4 linked regions of the Homo sapiens genome follow. The protein of the gene in region 3 interacts with the protein of the main gene of each other region in a biochemical or structural test. Each region holds a gene or a part of one and is shown on either strand. Other genes may lie near its edges.

What was found. Proteins that work in one complex are often made in the same cells at the same time.
Region 1: the proteins of RBBP7 (region 3) and BCL11A form a complex in vitro, tested with the Homo sapiens proteins (one study listed by BioGRID).
Region 2: the proteins of RBBP7 (region 3) and ERCC6 form a complex in vitro, tested with the Homo sapiens proteins (one large-scale study listed by BioGRID).
Region 4: the proteins of RBBP7 (region 3) and BCL11B form a complex in vitro, tested with the Homo sapiens proteins (one study listed by BioGRID).

The regions. Positions count from the first base shown.
Region 1 is NC_000002.12:60,470,155-60,474,011, reverse strand, and holds part of BCL11A (BCL11 transcription factor A), read left to right. Parts: intron 1-3,857. UniProt on the Homo sapiens protein: Transcription factor. Associated with the BAF SWI/SNF chromatin remodeling complex. Binds to the 5'-TGACCA-3' sequence motif in regulatory regions of target genes, including a distal promoter of the HBG1 hemoglobin subunit gamma-1 gene.
Region 2 is NC_000010.11:49,456,546-49,459,478, forward strand, and holds part of ERCC6 (DNA excision repair protein ERCC-6), read right to left. Parts: intron 2,690-2,933; coding exon 2,270-2,689; 3' UTR 1-2,269. UniProt on the Homo sapiens protein: Involved in repair of DNA damage following UV irradiation, acting either in the absence of ERCC6 or synergistically with ERCC6. Involved in the regulation of gene expression.
Region 3 is NC_000023.11:16,846,363-16,850,577, forward strand, and holds part of RBBP7 (histone-binding protein RBBP7), read right to left. Parts: intron 2,940-4,215; coding exon 2,882-2,939; intron 1-2,881. UniProt on the Homo sapiens protein: Core histone-binding subunit that may target chromatin remodeling factors, histone acetyltransferases and histone deacetylases to their histone substrates in a manner that is regulated by nucleosomal DNA.
Region 4 is NC_000014.9:99,227,198-99,231,054, reverse strand, and holds part of BCL11B (B-cell lymphoma/leukemia 11B), read left to right. Parts: intron 1-3,857. UniProt on the Homo sapiens protein: Key regulator of both differentiation and survival of T-lymphocytes during thymocyte development in mammals.

The DNA of each region.
Region 1 (3,857 bases), on a different chromosome or scaffold from region 3:
AGTTTCAGGGAAGAAATTCTATATTGTAGTGTCTATAATTATTGCTTTCTTTTGTTTTTGCAGAATACACTTTTTAAAGAACATCAGGATTTGGTAAAACAGCCAGTAAAAAAGCAATGAAGGAAAAAAAATGCACATGTAAATGCTCATTTCTAGAACAAAAGAGAGTGCGATTTTGACAATATCAGAAGGTTAATTAAGAAGTCTGTGAGTGATGATAAAGCTGGCACATTTTCATTACAGATTGACACAACTCAAGTCACAGGCATAGCTAATGTTTGCTCTATAATACTCTGATAAGTCAGAGAATCTAAGTGAGAAGAACTGGTATCTATGGTAAACATAGGGTCAAGAGCTAGATGCGGCTGAATAGAAAGGACATTTACTTTGCAGTTAGGTAAAGAAGCCTCTAGCTCAGACTAGCTGCACTGTTGTTATTTGTGTGGCTTGAACCTAGTAATCGGATTCAGAACTGGAATGGGTTCCTTCAGGGTACTTTACAAACGTTCAGGATGCATTTTAAGTGTAGTCTAGAAGGTGGTACATGGAAGAGCTGAGGGACTTGAGGATTATGGACTGCGAAAGGACTGTAGGTAGTCCTGTATTTTGGCCTGTCACCAATATAGAGACCCCTCCTCATCATAGTGTCATCCATTCTCTTTTTGAAGACCCAGGGTGAAAGAAAGGGGGTCACAGTGTCACGAGATAGCCCATTCCACGTGGGACAGCTCTACTGCTTTTGTGCCTGTCTCACTGAAAAAAAAAAAAAAACAGGGAAATTATCTAAAAACATATGTTTAGGAAATATACACACATTCACACACGTACACAGACACATATGCACACACTCACATATACACACACATGAACACGCTAACACACATGTGCATGCACATGCTAACACATGCACAAGCATACACACACATGCACACAGTCACAATATACACACATGCACATGCTCACAAACACATATGCATGCACACGCTAACACACATATGTACACATAAATGCTTGCAAACACACACACACGTACATTTTAGTGAATAGCACACATCTATGTACTCCTGTGGAGAGTCCTGTGGTTTTAATACCTGTTAAAGTTGGGCTCCCAAAGCAGTCATTAAACGTGTTGGAATGATGCTTTTTGCTTAGCTGTTTTGGCACATTTGGAAATCTGCAGTATTACCTGTTGATTAGTAGACAGTAATGTGGCTGTATTACACACCCAGTGATTAGTTTCAGAAACAAATAGCATGTTAATAGTCAAGGAATCTTTGAGATGTTCTTGAGGAAACCAAAAAACTTGATTTAATGACTTAAATTCCAGGAACATCCCACTGGGCTTAGAGCTCTTTGTCAAAAGTTGGTACCCAATATATGTAGAAATGTAAAGTGACCAAATGTATAACATTAAATCAAAGCCATTCCCAGTTTGCTGCATATTTTTTAATGAAACCTGAAAAATAAGAGTCACTATTTTTAAATTCAGCCATAAGGAAACTTTGCAACCTAATAATGTGTAAGGCATTTCTGAGGCCCCAAGTGGAAATACTGGGTCTAGAGAGACCTTTATGAAATAGAACAGGTTGAAACACCTTCCACCAGAAAAGTGTAAGACATTTGAAAAAAGATTGAGTCAGAAAAGGGAAATGTGTCCCATTTGAGAGACCAGAAAGGGAAACAAGAGTCCAGTTCCTGCTGTGTCCGTGCAGTTGCCACAGCTGCGTTCGCTGACATGTCGGCTTTAATGGAAGCAGTGAGGACACAATCTGTCTGGCACAAGCTGGTTTGGGTGTTGTCTCATGCTAAGAAGGCCCTGGACCTGATGGAGAGCCTGGACCTGTTCCCTGTCCTTATCAATGACAGACGGAGGGTGGAACCTGAATTTCCTAATGGAGGGATCCTTAGGGATTCCCTAAGCTTAATTTGTTTTTGACTGTTCCAGTCCTAAAGGAGGTGGGTCCTGGACAGGAGGGAAAACAGCCTCATGGCCCATGGGTCTCTGCCCAGGGAATTTCAAAGCTTCCAGCGTTCATACTTCCCTTACCCTAAGACAGCAGTGCTGATTCAGCTTGAGTGTGCATGAGAATCACCTGGAGAATTTATTCAACATAGAAGGCTGCTTCCCCACCCTCAATTTCTGATTCAGTAAGTCTGAGGTGGTGCCCAAGAATTTGCATTTTGAACAAACTCCCAGGTGATGCTGATCGGGGGTGGGCCTGGGTCTGCGCTGTGAGAATCACTTGCCTAAGAGCACTAACAAAGAAAAAAAGAGGACATAACTAGATCACCCACTTCCTAGCCAGCAACCAGAGCCCATCTCTGGCTGGGGAGAATGAAAGCGAAGGTGGGAAAAGAAGAGGCCCTCAACCAGGGGCAGCTCCTTTTCCCCACCTTGGCCTGGGAAGGCAGAGCTGCTCCTCGAGTTTGACGCTCAGAAGCATTAATTGTGATACTTTACTTTGCCTAAGCCGTGATGAAATAATTGAAGGCATCATAGCAAGAAGTTAAGCCCTAGGGAGGCTATTAACAATTTAGCATTTCCAGTTCATGTGGGAATGTCGATTTTACTTACCAAAGAGAATATTATGGATGTGTTTAGTGGAAGAAGCAGCAGAATCAGCTGGGGTCCCCAGTTGGCTTTGCTTTGACCCTCTTCCTGAAGGAAGATAAATGCAAGGGTGAGTCTCACAAAGACAGTGTGCTTTTTTTCTAAAGTAAATAGCTTCTTAGGCTGATAGAAATGTTTTTAGCTGTCTAATTCTGCAGGGGAAGCAGAGGTAGAGGGTGAACACAGCAAAGGTGAGGCCAGGAGGCCCAGGCAGCAGAGCAGGCCTTGTTTTCCAATTGTGAGACCAAGTCAGTTCATTGGCACCTTTCGAAAGCCCCATGTAGCGCTGCTGGGCTGGACCCTCCCCCAAGACGGTTAAGTACTGCTTAATGGATCAGTAGAAACAGGACCTTCTTGTTGGGCAGTGAAGACCACGGCAGGAGCAGCAGGGGGGAAGAGACAAATTCCCAGGAAAGACCACTGGATCAGGAGTCAGGAGATTAATTCTAATCTTCACATTGTGGTTAATCATCAGTGTAGCCATGGGCAAGTCACTTAATTTCTCATGGCCTCAGTTTCCCCATCTGTAAAATGAAGGGACAGACTTGATGATAGCTAGGGTTTTTTACAACTTAGAAAACAAAAACAAAAACAAAAACAAAAACAAACTATGCTGCCAGATAGTCAGATGAGACCTCACTTTGCCACACGGCCAGACACTGTAGAGATCTGGTCCTGCCGTCAGCTTGTTTAGGGCTAATGGGTTTGTAGACAAGTTTGCCAACAAGAGATTCATGCGAGGGGCTAGGCATGGATTAGGTTAGCAGTTCTCCCATTTCTTGCTGGAGGCCTGCTGAAGCACTTCAGGGTCTCTTCCCAGAGTAAGTGGCAGAGAATTTGAAATTTGATACTCCCCATACAAGGATCCAAGTACCTGTTGCGTTTATGCTGGGATCACAGAGATACCTGGGTTGCCTGTGTTTCCTAAGAAAAGGATGTCTGTTTTGGCAGCAAACTTAGTGAACGGCTGAGGCAAAAACAAGTGCAAAGATGGATTCTCAGATTTCTCATTGAAAAATACCATGACAAAATCTGTAGTAATTTTACGCCACACTCTCAATTCACTTGACGTAAACAGTCAAATGTAGACATACTTGTTTGTTAAGTCCGGTCTTCCTGCTTGTGTTGGTTCACTTTGTGGTGTTTATTTTGTTTTGGGTCAGAGAGGATGAAATGTCTCTGTAGATGTTCTCAGGCTAGGTGGTGCTTCCACCAGGGCTTCCCTCTGCAGGCCTGGTAACAGCAG
Region 2 (2,933 bases), on a different chromosome or scaffold from region 3:
AACCTAGGGCTGTACTTAGCTGTGGAACAGGTGCAAGATGGTGTGGGGGTGGGGAGGCAGACTATTGCTTGAACATTTTTAATGGTGATAGTATTAACATTTAATTTTTTGACAAAATTTTAAAATCCTTTATTTGTGCTGATAAAGCATGTTAAATACATTAAATCTATTTACACTGTACAAAGCTTTTAAAGTTCTAAAAATCAGATTTTTATCTAAATGAATAAATTTCTCTGTATTGTTAAAACCATTCTACTTAACTGCATTGTTCTCCAAGTCCCTCCAGCCAGGAGGCACGGTAACAATGTGTCAGATCTCCACACTGAGACACCACCTTCCCAAGATCATGGTACATCAGCAGCAGAACTGAGACAAAAACTGGAACAAGGACCACCTTGCTCCTACTGCATTATAGCTTTTGATAGTATTTGCTACTTGAAGAGGAGGCTATACCTTGTCTAGCTCAATACAGTTTATGTTTCAGACACTATAAGTATGATACCCAAATGCTTCATGAGTGAACAAGGTCAGCAGATCACCCTGAGAACAAGGAAGACACAATTTCCTTATAGGCTAATGATTATAAAAATAGAAATTAAGAGCTCCCCAGAAACAAACCACTTAGTCAAAAAGGAAGGAGTTTTGACTTTCTTCTAAGCCAAGTACTCAAGTTTAAGACTTATTGGCCTATTTAAAAATTCTTTCTATGACTTCTAAACAATGATGGCAAAGTGACAAAAATAATGTAATCATCTTCTTCCCTCATTATATATAAACCAAACTAAAAACAAAAGAAATGAACAAGCTATAATCCAAAAAAAACTAGAAAATCCTGACAGGAATCATATAGAACATCTCTAAGAAAAGGATTCTTGGCTTAAGCAAAATATTAGAGCAGAGAAAGCAAAACTCATGTCCTCTCATGCAGTCCGGCAAGGCCCCCCTGCCCAGAACCCTCCTCTCTGAGTCACATGGATGAGCAGACAGAAGATCTGGACACAGCTATCCATGTTAAGCATGAGAGAGATGTAAAGAAATAGCAGGGTAGGAGGGCAGGCATACTACAGAAAAATGAGAGAGAGGAAAAGAGCATGCCAGAGAATACAAATCCAAGAAACAAACTGCACTAAGACAGCTAAGAAGAAATTTCAGGAATACGATGAATTTCGGAAAACAACACTTCAAAGATGAGATGATAAAATCATCCTGAGAAGGAAACAAGAAAAACATGGGTAAGAAAATAAACTGAGGATCAAAGCAACACCATCACAGAACCACAAACACATAAACAGTAGTGAGATACAAACAGCCTTGGCTGGAATCCAAACCGCAGAAACAAGAAAGCCCGTCGCAAGGAATGCAAAGGCAGGCGCAAGACGAAGGCAACTGGAGAGAAGACAGCCTGCCAGCCTGCAGACAAGAGAGGCCTGGAGTGGTGTCACTTCATGGTAACAACGGCTGGGTCTGCTGTGGGCTGCAGTGATGTTTGTGTGCATGCATGTGTGTGGTTTTTATGTACCTACTTTTGGCTTTAATTTGATTTTTTTTAATGATAACACATTTTGTGACTGTAGGAGAGAAAAAGATGCCCTCTGCTTAAAGGAAAGCCAGGGTAAACTGAATACCCTACAGCTTTCCACAAATACATGTCTTATCATTTATTACCATACTATTTCATGCTTTACTAATAAAAATACTCACCAATTTACCAGTACCTTGAAAAGAGGATCTTTCCAAGAAAATTAATATAATTATCAAACAACAAATAACAAACCTGACCTTTGTGGGTGGCAAATGGTAAATATAAATGTTTAAAGTTTAAGCATCAAAATAATGCTGTTATCAGATATTGATGAACTTATTGAACAGGTCTGACTGAATGTAAGACCTGTTTTTAGCACCAATAAAAAAAAATATTGAGATTTCTGTTCTGCAAACTTCTAACTGTGCTCCCTGACAGCATCTTTTGGGTAAAGGAACAAATGTGCTCCAAGGAGTAACTGTTAGGTACCTGATTTACAATATAATTAGATTGCCAAAAAAAAAAAAATCAATCCAAGTATTTTCTCCTTTAGCTAGCATTATTAAAACTTTTAACTTTCAGAGAAGAGTTTCTTCTTCCTTAAAGTTTTAATTCTGAGGTAGACATCATGCAAACAAACATCAAGTGCAGCCAACTTCCATTGACAAACATGATTATTAATAATAAATTAATAATCAGAAATGCCCGTTAGAAAAAGGGACTTGAAAGTTTAGGAAGCAATGTTGTTTAGCAGTATTCTGGCTTGAGTTTCCAAATTCCTTCACCACCAGAAGTTCTATGGAAAGTGCACAGATTTCTCAATAGTTCTCGGAAGACACAAGACTGTGATGCAGATAACTTGGATTCAAACTCCTGCAGTATCTCCCTGGTGCTGGCCTGGCCATCAGTGTGGGCCTGGAAAGCGATGAAGTTTCTCATCTCCACCAGAAGGTCATCGTGTTCTGTGGTGGGCAGCAGGGCAGAAGCTTCCTGCAGGTGCCCGCTTTCACTTTCTAAACGCTCTGGCAGAATCAGGTGGTTTCTAGCTCTCATTTTAGCCAAGAGTGAGGAGGAAGCGAGGGGCCCGGATGAAGAGTCTGCATCTTCTGCTCTTCCACTAAAATGCTCAGGGACATTATCTTTTCCCTCCTTTTTCATGATGCCATCCTATAAAAAGAAGACCACTATACTGATATATTTAATTTCTAGTTTATGCCCCCACTTCCTTCCCCAAAGGCTGTGAAGGGTCACAAGACAACACATGTGCCAGGGTGGTGAGGTTGACAGGGTGAGACTGAGACTCCACCTAATGAAAAGGGAAAGGAGGAGGGTCTGGTATCTAAATCCTCCCACTGTTAAGAGACCGTTTCCTAAAAAAAAATAAAGAGGGGGCAACCAAGCCATTCCCTTA
Region 3 (4,215 bases):
TCAATCCGTTATATGCCATGTAACATACTCTTCTATTATACAAGGGGCCTGAGGAGTCTTCTGGTTCTTCCCCTCTCCACTTTACTGAGAGAGGCATACTTCTTGCCCATCTTTCCAACGTACACAGACAGCACCAGGGTGAAAGAAAATCCCTGGCTCCAAAAGCATAGCTCCAGATAGTCCCTCATAAGCTATGCCTAAGGTGAGAGCTTTGCTAAACAATTCTGAAGAGAGCAGTTGTTCCCCGCAAGAGACAACCTCGTCGGAATGCACTATGCCTTATTTTTTTATCTTAGAATTAAGATTTAAACGAAACACTTCTTCACAAGGACAGTACTAAATACACTGTTTGGAACTGGGACATCACACTTTCTGACAAAGTCTGATTTGACTCTAGTTTGACAATGAGGTCTCTGCCTGCCAACTAGGTATTATGCAATGTATCTATTTTACCGAATAATCTTATCGGGTTAAAAATATGAGGTGGGGCTGGGTAAAACTCACGCCTGTAATCCCAGCACTTTGGGAGGCCAAAGCAGGCGGATGGCTCGAGCTCAGGAGTTCAAGACCAGCCTGGGCAACATGACAAAACCCCGTCTCTACAAAAAATACGAAAATTAGCCGGGCGTGGTGGGGTGTGCCCATAGTCCCAGCTACTCAGGAGGCTGAGATGGGAAGACAGCTTGAACCTGGGAGGTGGAGGTTGCAGTGAACTAAGACTGCGCCACTGCACTCCAGCCTGGGTGACAGAACCAGACCTTGACTTAAAAAAAAAAGAGGTAAATAGCTTTTTAAAGTACTCTTAAGGGGTACACAAGTGAATATACTGGCCGGGTGTGGTGGCTCACGCCTGTAATCCCACCACTTTGGGAGGCTGAGGCGGGCGGATCACGAGGTCAAGAGATCAAGACCATCCTGGCCAACATGGTGAAACCCTGTCTCTACTAAAAATACAAAAATTAGCTGGACATGGTGTTGCGCACCTGTAGTCCCAGCTACTCGGGAGGCTGAGGCAGGAGAATCACTTGAACCCGGGAGGCAGAGGTTGCAGTGAGCTGAGATTGCACCACTGCACTCCAGCCTGGGCGACAGAGAGAGTACTCTTAAGGGGTACACAGGTGAATATATTTTAAGATCACTGGGGCTTAGAAAACATACAGGAGTTATCAAAGCATACTGGTGGAATAGTTTACTACTTTGTTTTTGGGACAGGGTCTCACTCCCATTGCCCAGGCTGGAGTGCAGTGGTGTGATCATGGCTCACTGCAGCCTCAACTTCCCGGGCTCAGGTGATTCTCCTACCTCAGTCTCCCAAGTAGCTGGGACTACAGGCACGCGCCACCACACCTGGCTAATTTATGTATTTTTTTTTTTTTTTGGTAGAGACAGGACAGGGTTTTGCCATGTTTCCCAGCCTGGTCTTGAACTTGTGGGCTCACGTGATCCACCTGCCTTGGCCTCCCAAAGTGCTGGGATTCCAGGCAGGAGCCACCATGCCCAGGCCCAGTTTACTACTCTCAAATGTCCCTTGATTTCAAGCTCTCTTGTAAAAAGCAAAATCCTAGTGTATTTTCTCAAGGACCTTGGAATTGTTGCAGAGGCATAATATACAAAGTAATACGCTTTCCTTTCTCCCTAAAAAAAATAGCTGGAGACCTTGAAAACATTGTACTATGTGAAAGAATCAGTCCCAAAAGACAAAAGTCATATTTATATGAAATATCTAGAATAGCCCAATCTTATAGTGCCAGAAAGTAGCACAGTAGTTGCCAAGGGCTGGAGGAAGAAGAGAATTGGGAGGTGATAGCTATAGTTTCTTTTGGAGGGGATGAATAATGTTCTAGAATTGATTTGTGGTGATAGTTTTACAAGTCTATGAATATACTAAAAACCACTGACTTCAAGAACAAAAAAAGAAAAAAAACCCCCAAAACCCAAGAACACTCCCTCCCCACTGAACTGTACACTTTAAAGAAGTGAACTGTGTGGTATGTAAATTATATCTCAGTAAAGCCGTCATCAAAATAAAAGGGTCTGGAGCATTCTTACAAGGTGGGCTTAGTGAACATCTTCTGTGTGCAGGGCTTGCTCTCAAGGACCTTCTTTACCTTTGAAAACTTGTGGACATTCAATATACTCCATAGGTTCACAGAAAAAATGAATAAATAAAACTCATGGACAAAGTACAAGTGTGCCAAAAATGAGTACTGGCATTAGAACTAAAATCGTAAATGACAGAGTGATGAGTGACTATCGGCCAAATAATGGGAGGAGACAAATGTTGGATTCAGAGCAAGGACAGGGAACCATTGCTAAATCCGGCAATGCTTCATAGAAAAATGACGAAGTGAGCACTGAAGGACTCAGACGGGAAGAATGAGGATGGGCAGATACCACCACATAAGCTTTCAAAGGGCCAAGGAGATGCGTGATGCTTCAATCAGGCATGGGAGGGAGATAGTGGGCTCTGCTAACATCAAGATTGAGAAAGCACTCCTTTTCTGGGCAGGAAACTTAAAAAGCATTTAAAATTTTTTCTATACTGTTAGGAAATGTTAAGTACTGCCAACTGAATAGCAATTATACTCACTCCCCATCCCCAAACCATCACAAATACCAGAGTTGAAATCAGTGAGAAATTACTATATACTATTTTCCAGGACCTCAAACCATTCTCAGTGAAACATTCATAAAAACCTACTGGGCTCCATTTACTATTTTTGATAAATGTCAAAGCCCAGTTGCAATAACCTTCAGGGCCTCCATTTTGAAACCATCTGCAAGAGCTAGAATTCGAAGTTCTGACCCATTCTCGAAATAAAGAGATCAATGACAATCCAATCTGCATATGACATTTCATCTTCTATAAGCCAATGCGTACCAGGAGTTCTGGAGGCCCATCTTCTGCATCTTCTGCTGATTGTTCTTCCCCAATTTTACTGTAAGAATAAAGAATATAACGCTTTCATCAGTGAAATTCTTGTAGCACGAACATCTGCTAAACCAGTATCAGCCCAGAAAGTAATCTTAAAACATAAACACACTCACAAAAACAACTTATTTCTATACTACAATCAATTAGGTTTTTTTTTTCCTTAGAGACATGGCCTCGCTATGTTTCCCAGGCTGCAGTCAGTAGCTATTCATTCACAGGCACGATCACTGTGCACTACAGCCTTGAACTCCTGGGCTCAAAAGCGATCCTCTCGCCTCAGCCTCACCACATCTGGCTACTGTTTATATTTGGTGTAAGGACGGGATGTTTACTTTCTGGAAATAAGTTAGAGTTGTTCATAATTGAAGTTGCAGAATGAGGAATTATTGTCAATAATAAACATTAACTCAAAATCCCTTCATTAACTGTTTATTGCCTTAGAATTAAAAGGTGAAATGTATAGTTAAAAAAATCTACACATAAACTGATGTGCAATCCCTATACTTCACTCAAAGCCTGTTGCATCCCAGGAGTAAAATATAATTACAAATCAGTACTATAGATCTGTCTAAAGATATGGCAATAAAACTTTGAGAAATGTGTAAGCCAAGGAAATGTTTTTATGGTTTTTCTCTTAAAAACTTCAATTTGTAGAATTTGCCAGTGCTCAACAGTGAAATCACTCTTTATGTATCAATATCAGCCCTGTCCTTATACCTAGCCCAAAGACTTTAGTAGTAACAACTACTAAAAAACAAAACCCAGCCCTCCAAGTGAGACATTTTTTTCCTTCCCACAAAACTAACCAAACAATCTCAAACCTGTGGGATTGCTAGACAATACTTATCTTCCACCTGTCAGTATAGTTGCTAAAACTCACCATTTTAATCCCAAATTTTATCTAATGTAATTTTACAATTTTTTGTAGAGACAGGGTCTATGTTGCCCAGGTTGGTCTCGAACTCCTGGGTTCAAGCGATCCTCCTGCTTCAGCCTCACAAAGTACTGGGATTATAGACATGAGCCGCCATGCCTGGCCCCCTATCTAATGTAATTTTAATATTAAACAAGCTAAGAAATAATTCTAAGAAGAAATTACACACAATGCTCACAAATTATTGGCACCTTCAGGGGCAATTCAGTTGCCAGGGCATCAGACTTCCAAACCTTGCTGTACGCTTCATACAACCTCTTTATAGTTTTGATTTAGGTTTTATTTTACTACTAAAATTGTTTTTAAATCAAATACAATGCCCCCAACTGTCTGCTTTAAAGGTTTT
Region 4 (3,857 bases), on a different chromosome or scaffold from region 3:
TTGGATAACACTTAACATCTGAGGTTTTCTTCGGCCCTTGCCACTGCCACCCCCTCCCCCACCCCAGACAATCCCCTGCCCCGCCAAGACCAGGCTAGGGGAAGATTCCTTGGTTGACTGTGTACATTGCTGGAGCCGTCCAAAATGCTGAGTTTCTCTTTGGGAGAATGTGTTGCCCATTAGCTTTGAAAAAGAAAAAAAGTGGCTCAAAAGGAGCCTCTTAAAAAGCTGTGGCCACGAGAGGGAGTGAAACACTGTGAGGTGTGTGAGGGGTGGGGGCGGGGGCTGAGTACCTGCTGTGCGTCCGGCTCTGGGCCAGACCCAGACACAGCTGTTTGTGCCGACTCATCCTGCTCTCCCGGGCGGGCGGTGTGGCTGCCCATTCTACAGATGGGCAGATGGGCCGGTGTGGTGACACAAACTGGCCTCTACCTGCCCTGCTTCTCCCCAAGTGGAACCCAAGATCTTATTCTGCCTAGGGTCTCTGGGAATCCTTGGGGTCCTTGGGAATTCAAGGGCAAAGGGCCCTCTCACAAGTCTGTCCCCCCGGCATCTCGGCAGGGCCTGGCGTGAAAGCACTGTGGCCACGCAAACCAGGATGCTGACACAGACACATGTGGTGAGCAGCCGTGGCCTGGTTTCTGTGGCAGGGGCAGGAAAGGAGAAGGGGGGTGCAGAGCTGGGGCAGATTTGATTGGTCCCTGCTTTGTCACCAGGCATGTTGCAGGCTTTCTCTCGACTTGAATTGTGAAAGGAAAACTATTTTTATTGGGCAGGTTGTGTTTTTAATTGAAGCTGTCCCCACAGGCGGTCCCTGATGGAGCCACAGCTCTGCAAAAGCCATGGCCACAGCTCTGTAAAAGGCCACAGGCAGCCCCTGCTCCAGGGTCCAGAGCTTCCTGGGCTCCAGAGCTCCCTAGTAGGGTGGCCTGGAGCTTTAGTGTACCCTCCCTGCTGTGACAGGTGGTGACATCATAGGATCTGGCTTCCAAAAGGGAGTTCTGGTTTCTTACTGGACTTGTGCCTTAAAGGCACAAAGCAAAACCCAAAATCTCCTGGGAAGGAGTCGGAACCACTTGCAAAGACGCCGGCTCCCTTTTCTGGGCTGTGCTGGTCCCCAGGTGCTCAGGCCTCCTGTCCTGGTTCAGTAGATCTGTTCTGTGAGTCTGTGGAAGGCCCTGCTTGCTGAGCAGGGGGTGCCTGCTCTGTCTGGGTGGTTGCCTTGCTCTCGTGGCTTCCTGTCATTAGCGCTGCAGCCTCGGCAACCACTGGGGGGGCCATGCTATCGAAGATCAGCCTGAGTGTTTATTACTGGACGCGGTCAAGTTCCGTGGCACAGAAATCTGATCTCACCAGAGGCTCACCCAGGGCTTTGCTTAACCCTCTGTTGGCCCTACTTAGAAGTTGCTGAAGTAGATGAGACTCAGCTAGAGGACTGAGCCGCTCCCTCATGTGGCCAGGCCTGCTTAGCATCTTTGTATGGTGCTGACCAGGAGCTGTTACCATCCCCATTTTGCAGATGGAGAAGCAAGGGCTTGGGGAGGGAGAGTGGCTAGCCAGGGTGGCAGAACTGGGATTTGTCCTTGGTTGCCTCCTGAAAGGCCACCCCTCTTCCTGTGGAGCCACGCTGCCTCTGCCGACATCCACGGGAGGTCGAATGAGCTTTCCACTGCCTTGGCTCTGGGGGGCTCTGCCATCAGCAAGTCCTCATACATGCCACTAGGATCCTTATGAGGACTGTGTATGGAGGGCCTGCTATGTGCTGCATTGTGCTGGGCATGTGTGCCTTCTTGAATTTAACCCTCACAGCAACCCTAATACTTTATTCTCCTCACTTTGCAGATGAGAAAATGATGTTCAGAGATGTTGAGTTCTCACAGCTCACGTCTATCCGTCCGTCCATCCATCCATCCATCCATCCATCCATCCATCCATTCATCCCTGTATCCATCCATCCATCCATCTATCCATCCATCCATCCATCCATCCATCCATCCATCCATCCATCCATGCATCCATCCATCCATCCATCCATCCATCCATCCATCCATTCATCCATGTAGCCATCCATCCATCCATGCATCCATCCATGCATCCATCCATCCACCCATCCGTTCATCCATCCATCCATCCATCCATTTATTCATTCTTTAGCTTGAAGCCATTTGGAAGGCACCTAGCTTGTAGCACTGTGCACACACAGGAAGAGTCGGCAGGCAGGTCCCTGCCCTCGTGCAGCTTGCAGTCTGGTGGTGGGGAGGACAGGGAGTGGGGACCTGCAGAAGGGGAAGGAGGAGCAGGGAGGGAGGGAGTGGTGGAGGTGGGATTTGATCCCAGGCTCTCCATCCAGCACCTGCCACATCTTTGGCTTTGGCTCTTCTTCTGGCATTAAAGGCCTTTTTAGATTTTAGGCCTTGAGAGCTGCCAGGACTCAGAGCCTGTGAGCAACCAGTGCTTGATTGCAGTGCTCTGGGAGGGACGTGAGGAAGGGCAGTGTCCTGTTCCTGGGGCTGGGACTGCAGGAGGCTGAGCCCCTAGGACTGCTCCAGGAGACCCTTCTAAGGGGCCTGCTCTTACCTCCTGCCCTCTGCCACCATGTCTGGTACAGTTCTCTTTTTTCATTCGGTCCCAGTTCATTGGCCCTCACCAGCTTGCACCACCATGTTTCCCGATCAATTTGAATACCTGAAACTATCCTATTCTGGTGTTTTTTGTCCCTTTGTGATTTGTGTCCCTGGCACTGGGCTGTTTGCTTAAGTGTTTTTAGTGCCTGTTTAATTAGTAGTTGGAATGGAGTCATTAAGTTCCCAGTAACCCGTTAGGAAGAAGCAGGCCTTTGTAAAGATGGAATGGGCCTGCTGTCCTTACCTGGTTTTGTCCCTTTTCGGATCAGGATGCATTGAACCCATCTCTTCAAGTTAACATGGAGAACCCCAGTGTAAACGTGTTTCACACAGGTTAATTGCGTGCCTGTTACCGCATCTGCAGTTATTTATAGAAGGATGTGATTTTACGGGGGGAGAAAACCACACAGGTATGTGTGTTTGTGCACACCCTGGGCTGGCAGCATCCCAGGGGGCCCTGCCTCCCGGGACCCCAACCCTAGACCTCTTTCCAATGGTCGCAGTGGGGAGAAGGGACTCGGGGGTCCTGACTCTTTTTGACTCTGCTGAAGGAAGGTGGGGCTTTGAGTCTAGGCGTTCCTGGGAACTGAAATTTCTTCCCTGAGAAATTTCACATAGAGGATTTGGCACAGTGGCTGTGGGGTCAAGAGCCTCAGACTGTGTTCCTGGTCTGTGCTTCAGCTGGCCAGGGGCCCTAAAGAAGTCATTGCCTCAGTTTCCCCTTCTGTAAAAATACACGTATGTATGTATATGTGTATGTATGCAACATTTGAAAACGAGGCTCGTGTTATTTTCTGAGACAGGTCAGTGTGGAGCTGCTGTGGGTGGAGTGAGCATGGGGCTAGCTAGGTTTCCAGGGCAGGGCGTGGGACATTCAGAGAATGGTTTGGACACTCCTGGGCTTTGTGCCCCGCATGCCAGAATCCTTCCCTGTTCTGAGGCTTCCATGATTGGAAAGCGGTGGTCAAGTGTATGAGACTGCTTGGGGGTGAAGGCTGTTCTGCCCCATGTAGTCATTTCCCCTCTCCATCCCTCAGTTTCCCCATCTATAAAATGGAGCTAAGGATAGGACAGGCTCTGAAGGGTCGTTCTGGGGATCGTGTGAGATCATACGGGCCAGGTGCTGAGAACAACACCATGTGCTGAGTGAGCCCTGTCGAAGTTAGAGTCCATGCACGAGCGGAATGGGATTCACGACATTGAGACTCTGTCAGGTCTCACTTCAAGCTGGAT